Regions from separate parts of the Homo sapiens genome. Here region 2 is linked to region 1. The links come from fine-mapping of genetic effects on gene expression. Tissue or cell type: whole blood. Region 1 holds a variant in brackets; the other region holds the start of a gene. All regions are shown on one strand. Distances are between the middles of the regions.

The links. PIP is the estimated chance that this variant, and not a neighbour inherited with it, causes the effect.
Region 2: it holds the start of SUPT7L, and the variant in region 1 is fine-mapped to the expression of SUPT7L in whole blood (TOPMed, PIP 0.92).

What each region holds. Positions count from the first base shown.
Region 1 is chr2:28,532,506-28,540,610 of GRCh38, forward strand. It overlaps PLB1 (phospholipase B1), which reads left to right. Exons shown (of 58, transcript NM_153021.5): 10 at 5,814-5,876; 11 at 6,594-6,673; 12 at 7,861-7,936. Among named protein-coding and RNA genes, the nearest start is that of PLB1, 40 kb to the left of the region's middle. RefSeq lists a silencer at 6,717-7,011. The variant C/T (reference allele first, on the strand shown) is at 4,682.
Region 2 is chr2:27,660,457-27,668,561 of GRCh38, forward strand. It overlaps SUPT7L (SPT7 like, STAGA complex subunit gamma), which reads right to left and starts at 3,158. Exons shown (of 6, transcript NM_014860.3): 1 at 2,873-3,158; 2 at 1,723-1,825; 3 at 528-932. The coding sequence starts at 1,736. SLC4A1AP (solute carrier family 4 member 1 adaptor protein) reads left to right here and starts at 3,433. Exons shown (of 14, transcript NM_018158.3): 1 at 3,433-4,121; 2 at 4,644-4,839; 3 at 6,812-6,934. The coding sequence starts at 3,459.

The sequences.
Region 1 (8,105 bases):
TTAGATAATTCATAATGTTGTACATATGACATGCATTCATAACTGTCACAAGGAACAGGTGTTTTTTACTTACCATCCCTCATATCAGGAAAAGGAAATAGAGGCATAGATAAGCTGAGTCAACAGTCATTCCGCAACTGAGAAAATTAGCGTCCTAGTTGGTTAAAAACTATCTTGCGTCTTAATTCTGATTTCATGTAAGTTCTGAATTTAGGAAATAAAGCAGGGTGCATACCATCCTCACCCCTTGGCCCATGAATTCTATTTGTGGTGGGAAAGCTGCTGTTTTATTGAAGTAGACTGTATCTTCCAAGTGCTTTGGCTTTTCTGGAAACAGGACATGAAGCGTGTGGTCTCGTTTATTATTTATGTAGGTGAATATCTATGACTTAAGTCTTTATTGAAGATCATTCAGATTAGGATCAGTTGAAAGTGTAAGGGGTGGTTTAGAAATCTAAGCCATGGTGAAATAAATGGCACCTGGACTCTTCTTCAGGATCCTGAAGACTGGCTGCTGCCACACTGTCCCTGCCACTTGTGGGACCAGCTTGTCCTCTTCGCCACCCTCCAGGCCAGGGCACAGGCATGGTGGAGCTTCTGGAGGTGGTGGTTTCTTTTCTGTGCCCCTCTCCTACAGTAGATACTCTTGCCTTCCTTCAAGTGCGCCACACTCCCACTGACTCCAGGCTCACCGTCAGAACTCCCCTTCCTTTAGTGATGTCAAGCCTTGGAAGAACATTGATGGAAATCCACCTTCCTGACTAGCTCTCATTGGCCAATATTCCTGTAGCCTTCCTGGGTTTTTAGCATATAGATAATGAAGATTTATTGTTCCAGTTTACCCTCTGTTTTCTCCAGTGCCGAGTGAAATTTACGTGCCTCATTTGTTCTCTCCACAGCCCCCCTTTTTGGTCATTATGCATTACTTCATGAATGTATGCATTCATGCATTGACATGCTCAAGCATTTAGACATTGGTGCATTGCTCTCTGTACTCATTAATCCATGACATTAACTCATGCATTTATGCAGTCACGCACTGAAGTGTTCAAGCATTTAGATATTGCTGCATTCTTCTATGTATTCACTAATAGAATCATTCATCCATAAGTTATATTCATGTATAAATTCATTTTCTCATCTTACATGCAGACATATGCTATTGTATTTGTGATCAGTTTGTTCATGATAGCATATGATTTTTTAAAATGTATGAATGCATTTATGAATACTTAGACTCATCAATGATTTTTCCATATACTTCATCTTGTGTTTAAACATTCCTACATAAATTCTTGCATGCTTTCATGTATTTATGCCTTCAAACATTCTTGAATACATGTTGTATTCTTGTGCACATGTATTCAACTACATGTTATTTGTATTTTTAGTTATGCAAGCAATACACAAATATTTTCCTTCTAAAAACTAAAACATCAGTTAAAGCTAAAATATGTATCCTTTTGGCCACCTCCCTAATCCTCTGTCTCTTTTTCTTTGCAAACCTCTTACATATCTATAAATCCAAGCCTTATTTTGTGTGCTTGTATGTATGAGAGAGATTTAATATAGTGTTATATTGTATGTACTACTGAACAGTTTTTTTCACTAACCAAGTATTGTTGAGATCTAGTCATGTTGACATATATGGAATGAGTTTATTTCTCTTCCATGAGTATTTTGCTGTGTAAATTTACTACATTTTATTTCACCATTTTCCTATACTGATGGCCATGTAGGTATTTCTAGTTTTTCACTATTATAAACAATGCTACAATGAACAGTCTTGCTCATTTACTTGACTATGTGGAAGAGTTTTCCTAGATACAGTGATTTTCAAATTGTGGACTGAAGTACATTAGTGAGTCAAAAAATCAATTTAAAGGATTGCAACCAACATTGTAAAAAAAATAGAATAGAATAAACTCTAAAATCCTCGAGTTCATTGCATGTAGTAAGGTAAGTATTGGTTCATGAGATTTTTGCATCATTTCTATATGGATACTTGTACTGGATTGGGACGTGAAACACATCTCACACTGTGGGTCAAGATAAAAACAGCCTCAAGAGCTGGGCGCGGTGGCTCACGCCTGTAATCCCAGCACTTTAGGAGGCCGAGGCAGGTGGATCACAAGGTTAGGAGTTTGAGACCAGCCTGGCCAATATGGTGAAACCCCATCTGTACTAAAAATACAAAAATTAGCCGGGCTTGGTGGCAGGCACCTGTAGTCCCAGCTACTCGGGAGGCTGAGGCAGGAGAATCACTTGAACCCAGGAGACAGAGGTTGCAGTGAGCCAAGATCGCACTACTGCACTCCAGCCTGGGTGACAGAGAGAGACTCTGTCTCAAAAGAAAATAAAAAAAAAAGAAAAGAAAAAAACAGTCTCAAGAAAAGCGCCTGGAGTAGATTCTTATACCAGTCTTTAGGTGCGCACATTTTGGGTTTTAATAGGCTCTGCCTCCTAATTGCCCTCCAAAGTGGCTGAACTCTCATATTTCCACCAGTGGCAGTGAGCACCTATTCTCTACAACCTTCCCAACACTTGTTCTCAGACTTAATGATTTTTGTCAACATGAGAAATTCCTGCAAGATCTAGTCATGTTGATGACATATGAATTGAGTTTATTCACACTTAGAAGCTCACACTTTTAATTGGTTCAAAACATATGACAAAAGTAATCATGCCTCCTCATTTTTAAACAGCTGTAAACCAATAACATGATGTCCATAAATTTAGCTAATTACAGCAACACCAGCTAGCTTCCACTCAAATTCCCTCTTTATTCTATTTCTTCTTCCATCTTGATTTTTCCTATTGCACAAAAACCACCAAGGCTTTGATGCCTGGAATAAATCTCACCTCCACTTCCACTTACCCCAGAGGCCCTGTGGCTCCTAGGCCTGGCTCCTTTGGCCTCCTGGCCAGGCCTGCTGGTGTTGCCCTTCTCACAGCCCAGACCCACACTCACCTCCTAGTGGTACCTCTGGCCACACCTCCCCGTTTAAGCTAATCCTGTGGTGTAGCTCAGCATCCTTGTTTGAGAAGTTCTTACGTGGCATTTTTATTTTTCTGAAAGCACATCTCAGGTATAAGCTCTCCCTCGGTGGTTGTAAAAATGTGCTCTGTAGATGGCCGGGCATGGTGGCTCATGCTTGTAATCTCAGAACTTTGGGAGGCCAAGGCAGGTGGATCACTTGAGGTTAGGAGTTCAAGACCAGCCTGGCCAATGTGGTGAAACCCTGTCTCTACCAAAAATACAAAAATTAGCTGGGTGTGGTGGTGCATGCCTGTAGTCCTAGCTACTCGGGAGGCTGAGGCAACAGAATCACTAAACCCAGGAAGTGGAGGCTGCAGTGAGCTGAGATCATGCCACTGCACTCTAGCCTGAGCAACAGAGTGAGACTCTGTCTTTAAAAACAAAACAAAACAAAACAAATGCTCTGTAGAGACCCAGGGGCCACTGGAGATCCCTCTGTGGGCATATGTTGAGAAGGTGGGCACCAGCTGCCACCTGACTTTACAGAGCAGGTGTCAAGGGTTTCCTAAAAGTTCACACGAGAAAAACATGTTTTACCCTTAAGAGGAAATGTTGAGCTACTGTCCTGCCCCAACTTAGGACCTGAATTCTCTTCCCCTGTGGAGACCTTTGGGCTCATTTAATGGGAAATAAACAAGGGCCTGTGTCCACAGTTGTTCTTTAGGAGTTTCTTATGACCAAAGTCAGAGAGTCAAGTCAGCAACTATCCATTAGGTGTGACAATGACTCTGAAGGCAGGTGCTTTGGAGGTAAATGATGAGCTGGCTCACAGCAGTGACCTGAGGATGCTTTTTGGATCTGGACACTTGCTTACTGCTCTCTAGTTAAATTTGGCTTTATTAATTAGTAAGATTTTAAAAATCAGAAGAAAAAATGAAAAAAAGAGCTGATTACAAGAAAACAGACACATTTATCCCTTGTAAACGTCTCTAGCTACAGGTGGCAGCCTTTTGGAGGGTACACTGGTGTGTGATTCAAGAAACCTAAACGTGTTTCTAGTTTTTGACTGAATAATATCCCATTCCTTGGTTTAAATCCCAATAAAATAATTTATTAGAAAGAGTTAAGTTGGGTCTCAGGCACGTGTTTGATAATAGACATTCTTCCAAACCAGGGGGCAAACGATACACATGGAAATGTACAAGTTCATTTGAAGAAATCAGCTTTTTCCTGACTTTGGGTTCTAGGAGTTTATTATGTATGACCTTATAGAGGAGGGACATCTTATAGGAGCATAATGTCTTTTACTGAGAAATGGGGACAGTTGGTGTCCCGAGCGACAACCATGCAGTGCCTGGAATGACTGGGTGGGCCCCAATTCCCTCTGCAGCTGCAAGTAAACACCTTGACCAGGGGTTTCTACAGCAAGATTCACACTCTAGAGAGAGCCACACAGGGTCCCCCGCCTCTCCAGGGACGGTGGGTATGGTTCAGATGGGCAGCGAGGATGCCTCTAGACAGAGTTCCCCTGGGCTCTTCAGGAAAGAGAGGGTGATGTTTGATGTCACGGTCAGGGAGCAGCTCACTTAGGAGAAAACTAGACAGAAGGCTTTACGGTAACAGACCTGGCTGACCCGGCCTCCCAGAAGCCAGCCTCACACCAAAGCAGGGACAGCCGGTGAAGGGGCAGAGAAACAGGGA[C/T]ACTGCATTTCCTCCTGTGTGGTGCCAGCCCAGGTGATTGACAGCTGTCTCCAGAGTCACTGCCTGTGTCCCCTCCGGGAAACAGAACAGCTCCTTGGCCTTCCTTGTCTTCCTGTCTGAGCCAAGTTGCCTTAGGGGACAGCCAGTCTGCTGTTTGTTAGGGGACAAACTTAGAAGTTTGTCTTGTAATTTTTATTATTTTTCACATTGAAAAGGTAAAGCAGGCATGAGCCACTGCACCCAGCCTGTAATCCAGCACTTTGGGAGGCCGAGGTAGGTGGATCATTTGAGGTCAGGAGTTTGAGACCAGCCTGGCCAACATGGTGAAACCCTGTCTCTACTAAAAATACAAAAATTAGCTGGGCATGGTGGCGGGCGCCTGTAATCCCAGCTACTCAGGAGGTGGAGGTTGCACTGAGCCGAGATCACACCACTGCACTCCAACCTGGGCAAAAGAGCGAGACTCCATCTCAAAAAAAAAAAAAAAAAAAAAAAGGTAAAGCAGGGTCCGTTTTTGAGGTCCTTCATTTGTTGATTTTCATGACCTGCAGGAAGGGGAGTGGTGTGTGTGTTGGGTGCGTGGGAGATGTCTTTAAATACTCAGGTGGCAGGACCCACTCATACTCTTTCTCTAGGAATGCTTATCTTAGGGCAAACACAGCAAGAGAAAAGCTAATAAAATAGGATCACATGAAGGTTCCGAGGCCCATCTGGGGCCTTAAATACAGGGTTAATTGTATTTCCCTGTTGGACCTGATTTTCTTTGGGAAAAAGCGATTCCTCAAGTCTTTGGGAGTAAGTCTCCTGTCCCTCAGTGTGAGCTTCAGAATCACACCAGGTATTTCTGATCTTGCTCTGACTTTGAGTTTGCCCTTTCCTGATGGAACTTTTCACCTGTGGGGAGTTTGGTTTTTCCCAGGTGGATGATGGGTTGGGGAGAAAATAGAAGAACAAAATGAAGACAAAACTAGGAAGCTCTGGGAATTCTGTCCTCCTTTGTGGAATGCCAGGTCTAGATGGTGCCTTTGCCTGTGGTCTTGCCTGGCAGGGATGGGCCTGTTGTGAGTCTGGGTGGCCTCACCTCGTGGTCCTCCTGCAGGCACCCTCACTTAGCACGGTTCTCCTCTCACAGAATGGGCTTGCGGCGGGCGGCGTGGATGAGCTGATGGGGGTGCTGGACTACCTGCAGCAGGAGGTGAGGCCACGGGCCTAGGGCTTCCCCAAGGGCAGTGGGGCCCATTTACCCTCATGTGGCCTCCACCGGGGTGGGGAAATGGACCCCTGTGAGGGAGACTGGGACCCTCGGGAAAGGGGAAACTTTAGAGCACCCCATCTTCTCATCCTTTCAAATGAGAACATGGGCCAGGAGAGCACACTCCACTCCTGCAAAGGAAACTTCTGAGAGAAACTCGGCTCTTCCTTGAGTCCTCGGTGGCCCTGCTCTTCCCTAAGGCCTCTCTCTACCTGAGACTGGGGCGAGGATAAGATGGAGGGGGCCTGAGGACCTTCAAGACCTTTCTGCTCAGTGACCGTGATGCTGCTGCAGGGTCTGAGAATCAGCTGGGGGTTGCTGTGGCCCTGCCTTCCGCTTTGCTCCCCTGGAGGGCAGCTTTCTGCTGGAGGAGGCTGCAGGCCCATAGCCCCAGTGGTCTCCCTCCCCTGTGGACACTGGTGGGAGGCGCCCCGCCCACCGTGAGGGACAGAGAGTCCTGTTTCTGGATGGCACAGATGCAGGGCTGGCAGCGCAGACTGACCCTGACCAAACATCTCCCAAAGGATCAGGCCCAGTTAACCAAGGGGAGGCCCATCACACTCAACCACACCCCAACGGGGCCCAAGCAGGAGTTCCAGAAAGCCCGGCAGCCATGGCGACTTGGCAAATACTCACCTCCCTCTCTGTGTGTCCTCCTAGGTCCCCAGAGCATTTGTAAACCTGGTGGACCTCTCTGAGGTTGCAGAGGTCTCTCGTCAGTATCACGGCACTTGGCTCAGGTAAAAGGGGAAGTGGAATGAGACACGCATCTGTGACACGGCTGTCACGTGTGCGGCCTGTGGGGGCCCTTCATGTGCCGTAATCTATGAGGGAGCCCTAAAGAACAGAGGCCAAAGGAGGCCGAGAAACACATGCGAGCTCACACCCGAGCGAGTGGCAGAGTCGGGGTGGGGTGGGCCCTCTGCCAAGCATTGTTTTGGGGACTGAGTCAAAGAATAAAATACTTTATTCTTTTATTCTGGTTGATGTTGTGCCAGAGGCTCTCCTCAGTGCCAGAGTGATTTCAGAGTTCGCCTTGGCAAAACATCCATAAGCTAAGAAGTGTTACTTCTGGAAATTGGATAGAAAAACGTAGCCTAAATGTAGTTTAACTTCACAGAACTTGATTCCTATATATTTCTGAAAATGTTCATAGACTTTAAACTTTTTGGAGCCAAATCCTAAGAATTCTGGCTCTGGACCTAGAAAAGAAGTTCATGTGGAAAAAGTCAGGGCAAGGGCGGTGGAGAAAAGAGAGTGCTGGAAAGGAGAGAAGTGGGGTGCTGGGGAAGGAGGGCTCTGAAGAGGATGCAAGACAGAGAAGGTACAGGGGAGGGAAAGGGGAATGGGATGTGGGTGTCTGGTGTGAAGAACAGTGAGCGGGGAGGAGGAGGACTGAGAGATGAAGGGGGAGAAAGAGCTTCCCTCTATCCCATAGTCACCCCCTAGGAAGAGCTTTCCTCCATTCCATATCTACCCCCCAGGAAAAGCTTCCCTCTATCCCATAGCCACCCTCCAGGGAGAGCTTCCCTCCATCCCATACCCACCCCCCAGGGAGAGCTTCCCTCCATCCCATACCTACCCCCCAGGGAGAGCTTCCCTCCATCCCATACCTACCCCCTAACCCATACCCACCCCCTAGGGAGAGCTTCCCTCCATCCCATATCGACCCCCTAGGAAGAACGTCCCTCCATCCAATACCCACCCCCCAGGAACAGCTTCCCTCCATCCCATACCCAACCCCCAAGAAGGGACCACCCACCCTCTATTCTTCTCAACATTTATGTCCTCTAAGACTTATGCTTCTTCATCCCTACTCCTTAAGCAACTCCTATGCCCCTTCTTCCATAAGAGGCGGGCTGGATGCATCCCCTTCCCTGCCCACACTGCCTCCCCTCTCTCATTCCTGGTGTGTTTTAACCTGCAGCCCTGCACCAGAGCCCTGTAATTGCTCAGAGGAGACCACCCGGCTGGCCAAGGTGGTGATGCAGTGGTCTTATCAGGTGAGCCCAACCTGGGATCCCAAGCTGCTGGCTCACCGGGGTGGCGTGGTCGCCAAGGAGAACAGGAGTGATAGGGACAATTAGTTGAGTTTGCTAATGTTAGGACTTCTCCAGCTGAATTCAGGACTAAGTCAGGAGCAAAGAGAGCTACTCTTGCTTCACATCGTGG
Region 2 (8,105 bases), 870 kb before region 1:
CAAGTGATCCACCCACCGTGGCTTCCCAAAGTCTTGGGGTTACAGGCATGAACCACTGTGCTCAGCTTATATTATTATTTCTTGAACTATGTTATCAAAATGAAAACACACAATTTAAAGATTCTTGTGTAGACTTGCGGATTCCTAAAAATACCAGAATAAGTCCATGAATCCCAATTTGAAGACAACGAGCTAAACCCATAATTTTTTTTTATATTAAATAGAAAGACTAGATCCTAAGAACTATGAGGCCATGGCCTTTTTTACATACCAGTGTATTACCCTGCTCCTAGTAAAGTGCTTGGCACATAGTAAGCACTCAAAAAATTAAAAAATACAGACCCTGAATTCTGAAGACTGGCATTCAAAACTTAGATATCCCACTAATTACCTGGAGAAACCTTGGCCAAGTCAATTACTCTTATCCTCAGTTTCCTCGCATGAAAATGGAAATGCTATTATAGGCTTAACAGGGTTGTTGGGAAGATGACTTGAGAAAAGTAAGATACAGCAAAGCCTTGCCTTACCGATAAAAGTCACTCTCTGGGTCACTGTGCCGGATCTGGAATGGTGCATTGGGATTCTTACAATCTAAAGGCAGGAGGTCATCAGGGAGAGGAGGTGACCCAGGGCACGAGGGAAGAGGTTCACTCTCTTCAGTTTTTACACCTTCTGTCTGCTGCTGATTCTGGGCCTGAGCTGTGGCAATAAGGTTGCGAAGACGTCGGTTGTGCTGAATCAACTGAATCGTATGGATGGTGAGACTACATGGCTCTGAGGGGATGTCCAGCATAGTGGGGGGCTTCGGCTTGTTGGCTGAGGGTTGGTGCAGGGGTGGGTCATGGACTTCCACCAGACGGAACTCCCGTGGGAGCAAATCGAAGGAACTTCTGTTGGTCTGGCTTGATGATATTGGTATCTCTCCCCAGTATCTCAACATTTTGGAATAAGAAGAGAAGAGGTCTCAGGATAAATGTAGACAATAACCTAAAAGTAATGTGTTTAAATCCTGGCAACTTTAGATTATAGGCTTCTGTAGTGAAAAATACGAGGTCTAGCCAGTTATTTATGTAAAAAGTAGGCTATTTGTGACCACTTAGAAAAATGTCAGTGTCAGCAAAACTGTAGGACCAAAGGTGTTCTCCCTAAATAAATTAAGAGAAATGTAACTGTTAGATGCTGGTTATTGTCATACTATGACAATTCCTACTACACTGAACCACAGGGTAGAATTTGGGTCATTAGTGGACCAATAGCTACAACAGCATCTGGAGCTCTAGTATCCCTATTTCCCATCTCACTCACTAACTCATTACCAGAACTACCATCACGCTCAATCCTGAACAATAAGCAAGGCATGATAAGGTATCTTGATACATCTGTGCTGGATCAATAGGAGAAAAACTAGTAGGGTTAAAGATAATAAGAAGTGGTTCTTACTCTGTGTGTCTTAGGCATGATCCTGGTGGAAAAATTTATGAACCATTAATCTAAATGGCATTATGCTTTCAACTTTTGACATATAGAACGTGAGAGATTTCTGCTGCCTTCTAACTGGTATCCCTTCCTCCAATCTCTCTTTGTATGTCATCTATTCTCTACACTGCTGCTAGACTTACTCTTTTTAAAACTTAAATCAAATGGCTTCCCATTGCCTATTGGAAAAAGTCAGAATTCCTTGGCTTACCATTCAACAAAATTCACAATCTGGTTTCAACTCACCTTTGCAGATTCATTGTCCATATGTCTCTTCAAGTTCAACAAACATTTATCAAATGCCAGGCATTCTGTGTCGGTCAAAGACTGATAATGTGAGATCCTTGCCCTGAAGTGAGGAAGAGAAACAGAAGCAGAATATTTCAATATGAAACATGGTAAGTACTGTTCTAGAGGTATATGGACCTGGGGTACTGGAAGCACAAAGGAGGAGCTTCCTGGGTGAAATGACTACCTTTGTTCTAACAACATTATACTACTCAGTTTCTTGAGAATGCTGTACATTTCCACAATTGACACTTTCAGCTGTGAACTCTGCCAGAAATGCTCTGCCAACCTTGCACATCCCTGGCAGACTCATATTCATTTTTAAGTACAGCATAAGTCCCCACCGTCCGTCACTTCACCAGTGCATCTCCCTTTCTCTATTCTCACAGTGCTTTGCAAGTCTATGTCACAGCAGTTATCCTTGGATTTTAATTAGTACTTATCGCAATAGATTTTTTCTGCCCGTCTATTTCTTATGGCTGTGGTCTTGTTACAGGGCCAGGCACACAGAAATATCTGGCATTTGTTGAATGTTTACTATATGCCAGACTTCACCTTTTTTGTTTGTTTCTTTTTTGAGACAGGGTTTCACTCTGTAGCCCAGGCTGGAGTGCAGTGGTGCAGTCATGGTTCACTGCAGCCTCAACCTCCTGGGACCAAGCAATCCTCCCACCTCAGCCTCTGGAGTAGCTGGGACTACAGGCGCGCACCATCAAACCTGGATTTTTTCTTTTTTTTTTTTTTTTTTGGCGAGACAGGGTCTCGCCATGTTGCCCAGCCTCCTCTGGAACTCCTGGGCTCAAGCAATCCTCCCGCCTCAGCCTCCCAAAATGTTGGGATTACAGGCATGAGCCACCGGTCTGGCTGGCCTTTATTGTTTGATTCAATTCTTCCAACAACCCTATGAGGCTAATAATCTTATCCCCATTTTTCAGAGTGAGGGCTGAGGCCTAGTGTCTTGCCCAATGTCACAAATGGCGAGGTCAAAAATCGACAGTCTCCAGAGTCTGCTCTCTTAACCACTTAACTATTCTGCCTTAATAATTTCAGAAAAAAAATAAATGAATGAACGAAATAACAAAAAAGTCGCCCTCTTCCCTTACTTTACCGAAAGGAGCACGAAGAACAGGCACGGAGCCCAAGGAATGCCCAAGTCCCTCCAGGGGTTTCCTCGGTCACGGTCCGCCGGCGCAGGCGCCAATCACAGGGTCCTGAGGTCGCCTGACGTTCAGGGCAGCCGGAAGACGGGGAGGTCTGGACCTGAACCGAGACAAGGAGGTACCACACTATTCACTGCTGCGTCGCAGAGCGGGCTGGGCGGCTGTCTGGACCTCGAGAGGCCTGAGGCAAGGATCGCGTCAGACCCCGAAAGCTGGTTTGTTGATTAGTGATCTAAGACCGCCGGAAGCGCTTCTTCTCAATCAAGCTATGCAACAGGAAGTCATTACGATCCCGTTGTAACCTCTAAATATGTCCCCGTTCTGCACAGCATCCCGATAACCGTTTTGTTTTTCTCATATTATGACCTTCTCATGTTAGCACCACTTCGCAACGCTCCAGGTCGTGAAGGAGCAACTTCACCATCGCCGCCTACAGACGCCACTGGGAGCTTGGGAGAGTGGGACGTGGACAGGAACGTAAAGACCGAAGGGTGGGTTTCGAAGGAGCGGATTTCGAAGTTGCACCGGTTGAGGATGGCTGACATTCTCTCTCAGTCAGAGACCCTGGCGTCGCAAGACCTCAGTGGGGACTTCAAGAAGCCAGCTCTGCCGGTGTCCCCAGCGGCGCGGAGTAAGGCCCCGGCCAGCAGTTCTTCAAACCCTGAGGAGGTACAGAAGGAAGGGCCCACTGCGTTGCAGGACTCCAATTCTGGGGAGCCCGACATCCCTCCTCCTCAGCCGGACTGCGGTGATTTTAGGAGTCTACAGGAGGAGCAGTCGCGCCCCCCGACAGCGGTTTCTTCCCCTGGCGGTCCAGCCCGGGCTCCCCCCTACCAAGAGCCTCCATGGGGTGGCCCTGCCACAGCCCCCTACAGCTTAGAGACCCTGAAGGGCGGCACTATCCTTGGCACCCGTAGCTTGAAAGGGACGAGTTACTGCCTTTTCGGGAGGCTGTCTGGCTGCGACGTGTGCCTGGAGCACCCTTCGGTGTCTCGGTACCACGCAGTGCTGCAGCACAGGGCGTCCGGCCCTGACGGAGAATGCGACAGCAACGGGCCGGGCTTCTACCTCTACGATCTGGGAAGCACCCATGGCACTTTTCTCAACAAAACTCGCATCCCACCTCGCACCTACTGTCGAGTCCACGTTGGGCATGTTGTTCGCTTTGGAGGCAGCACCCGGCTCTTTATCCTGCAGGTAGGTAGAAAAACCTAGAATTGAAATTTCGGGTTCATTGGACTGCGTTCTTGTGCTTCTTAAGCTTTGGATGAGGAAGAAGAATCTCCCACTCAGCGATTACGAAAGTGAAGGAATCAAGTCTGGCCTATCATCTTCAGACGGCTGTACACATTGCTATATTTCTGAAAGTCATGTTCACAATCCCGAACTCTAAAATAACTTGTTTGGCCAGGCGCGGTGGCTCGCGCCTGTAATCCCAACACTTTGGGAGGCCCAGGCGGGAGGATCGCTTTAGCCCAGGAGTTTGAGAGGAGGCTGGGCAACATGGCAAGACCCTGTCTCTTAAAAAAAAAAAAAAAAATTAGCCAGGCATCATGGTCCCAGCTGCTCAGGAGGCTGAGGTGGGAGGATCACCTGAGCCCAGGAGGTCAAGGCTGCAGTGAGGTGTATTACAGCCACTGCACTCCAGTCCAGCCTAGGCGACAGAGCAAGACCCTGTCTCTAAATAAATAAATAACCTTTTTTTCCTTGGTTCATCAGGGACCAGAGGAAGACCGAGAGGCAGAATCCGAGTTAACAGTAACACAGTTGAAGGAATTGCGCAAGCAGCAGCAAATATTGTTGGAGAAGAAGATGCTAGGAGAAGACTCAGATGAAGAAGAGGAAATGGATACCTCTGAAAGGAAGATAAATGCTGGTAGCCAAGATGATGAGATGGGTTGCACCTGGGGAATGGGTAAGAAATTAAAATTGCTGCCGGAGGTTAATATTTTAAGTTCATTACAAGTGGTACCCTTAAATGTTTTTTTAAATCATACAGCTTTTCATGGCTCCTTGAGATAGATAGGGCAAACACAATTTGCACATGAGGTAACCAAAACCCAGAGAGATTCACTGACTTTACTGTTGTAAAGAAATTGACTTATAGGCACTTTGGATTTTTTAAAAATTTATTTTTAATGCACTCTCTTGTTCAAAACTTGTCCTAAGCATAAAATTATTATTTTTACAATTCTAAAATTTTATATTTATTAAGTACTGACCTTGTGCTATGTGATTATCATTGGAGGGGATGGAACTCTATTCAATCAAATAAATGGGATGTTATTCAATATAGGATATTCTCTTGAATTTTTTGTACTTTGTGAAGATATCCTGAAATGTGGAATATCTAATCAGATAAAGCTGGTCCCTTAGCCAAAATAATAAACTTTCTTTAACACCAGATATTTTAGAAAATGGATATTCAGGAGATGGGAGTATAAAAAGGTAGAAGATGGCATTAATATATAGTTGGGAAGATAGGAAAAATTATGAAATTACTTGTGCTAAGTGCCAAACAAAAGCTAGAAACCATAAGTATGCTAGAGTGAAAGTTTGGAGAAGAGAGAACAGTCACTGGGGACTTAGACCTGTGTTGTCTGATATGGTAGCCACTAGCCACATGTGGTTACTGAGCACTTGCAGTGTGGCTAGTTGCAATTGATGTGTGCTGTAAATGCAAAATACACACTGAATTTCAAAGACTTAGTCTGAAAAAAAGAATGTAAAATATCTCTTTCATGATATTTTTATATTGATGACATGTTGAAATGACAATAATTTTACCTGTTTCCTTTTAATTTTTTAATGTGGCTAATAGAAAATTTAAGATGACGCATACAGCTGTCATTATATTTCTGTTGGACAGCACTGACTTAGATCTTTGGGAAACTTAATTTTTTTTATTTTAGTAGAGATGGGGTTTCACCATATTGGCCAGGCTGGTCTTGAACTCCTGACCTTGTGATCCACCCCCCACCCCCCCCCCCCACCCCGCCCCCCGGCCTCCCAAAGTGTAGAGATTACAGGCGTGAGCGATCGCACTCCACAGGGAAGCTTTATGAGCATAAGGATTTTGAGCTGGAACTTGAAGGAAAGGAAAAGCCTTATGAAGCTGAGTATTGGGATTGGTATTCAGGGTAGGAATTGATGATTTTAAGGAAGTTGTGAGTAGACCAGTCTATTTGGCAGATATAAGAAGTATTAGGAAATTATATTGGGAACGAAAGTTAGATATGAGTGTGAGAGAACAAGAATGCCAGGCTGAGGAGCTCAAATTTTTTTTCCACAATGTGGTAGGTAATTTTACTTTTAAAATATAATGATGGAGAAAAAAAAATTAAGGTGCCATGAAAACAAGTTTTGACTTGTCACACAATTTAGAAAACCTGAATATGCTCATACTAGTGGTTTTGTGGTGGTTGTTCCACCCCCTGTCCCTGCAAGTATTTATTATTTTTCATCACAGATAAACTATATATATATATATATTTTTTTTTTTTTGGGAGACGGTCTCACTGTGTTGCTTGGGTTGGAGTGCAGGTAGCGCGATCTTGGCTCACTACAACTTCTTCCTCCCAGGTTCAAGCAATTCTCCTGCCTCAGCCTCCCAAGTAGCTGGGATTACAGACACCCGCCACTGTGCCCAGCTAATTTTTTTTGTATTTTTAGTAGAGATGGGGTTTCACCATGTTGGCCAAGCTGGTCTTGAACTCCTGACCTTGTGATCCACCTGCCTTGGCCTCCCAAAGTGCTGGGATTACAGGCATGAGCCACTGCGCCCAGCCTAAACTATATCTTTATGCAGCCTGAGAGAATAGTGGGTATCATTCAAATAGTCTCTTCTCATGTCTGATTATCTTTTCTTTCTTTTCCATATCCTGTAGGAGAAGATGCAGTAGAGGATGATGCTGAAGAGAACCCTATTGTCTTAGAGTTTCAGCAGGAAAGGGAGGCCTTTTATATAAAGGATCCCAAAAAGGCTCTCCAAGGCTTTTTTGACCGAGAAGGTATGTAAACAGATTCTGACCCTACCACTAAAACATATCCAGAGCAGTGTGGTTTTCTAGAGCTTCATGTTGAGCTTTATACTAAGATATGCTATAATTTTATTGCTGTCCTTCTTGTTCACTTTTTACTCTTGTGGTCAGTTGCTTTAGGTTTATTTTGAAAATTATTCCTCATTAGTATGGCAGAGGGGAAAAAAATCATAAAAATCTTGTTAGTCTTTCTTCTTATCTTAAAAAAAGGAAGTACTTTTTCCTGACTCATCTCATTCTTCTCAAAAGATCCTGGACTTTGGTGGTGGGGAAATTGAGCCAACTTCCTGTAGTTTTTTAATTCCGAATTCACCTGATCTTTTGTAATTCCTAACATAGGTTTTGATTTTATATTATATGATTTAAAATTTTTTTTCCATAGAGGATTGTTTTGGTAGGAATACTTTGAGAGAATATCTATGTATATGTATGTATATCTGTATATATTTTATATGTATATATAAATAATATATGAAATAGCTGTGCACTTAATATCTGTGCTTCTAAAAACCAGGCAACTGTGTTAAAATAACCACTAAAGTCTACAACTTATAAAAGTGAAACATACTATACAGTGAACAGAGCTATGTATGGAGAATTGGTTACTTTGATCTGAGTTTGTTTTTTTCTCTGCCTCAGACTTACTCTAATTTTATTATCAGACAATAATCCCTAGGAATGAGAAGTGAAATGCATTGAAATTTATTATTCAGTGTGGTATGGGAACTTGTTCTTTTTTTTTTTTTGAGACGGAGTCTCGCTCTGTTGCCCAGGCTGGAGTGCAGTGGTGCGATCTCGCCTCACTGCAAGCTCCGCCTTCCGGATTCACGCCATTCTCCTGCGTCAGCCTCCCGAGTAGCTGGGACTACAGGCGCCCGCCACCACGCCCGGCTAATTTTTTTTGTATTTTTAGTAGAGACGGGGTTTCACTGTGTTAGCCAGAATGGTCTCGATCTCCTGACCTCGTGATCCTCCCATCTCGGCCATCCAAAGTGCTGGGATTACAAGCGTGAGCCACCGCGCCCAGCCAGAACTTGTTCTTTTTTTGAGACAGGGTCTCACTCTGTCGCCCAGGCCGGAGTGCAATGGCGCAATCTTGGCTCACTGCAACCTTGACCTCCTGGGTTTAAGCTATGCTCCG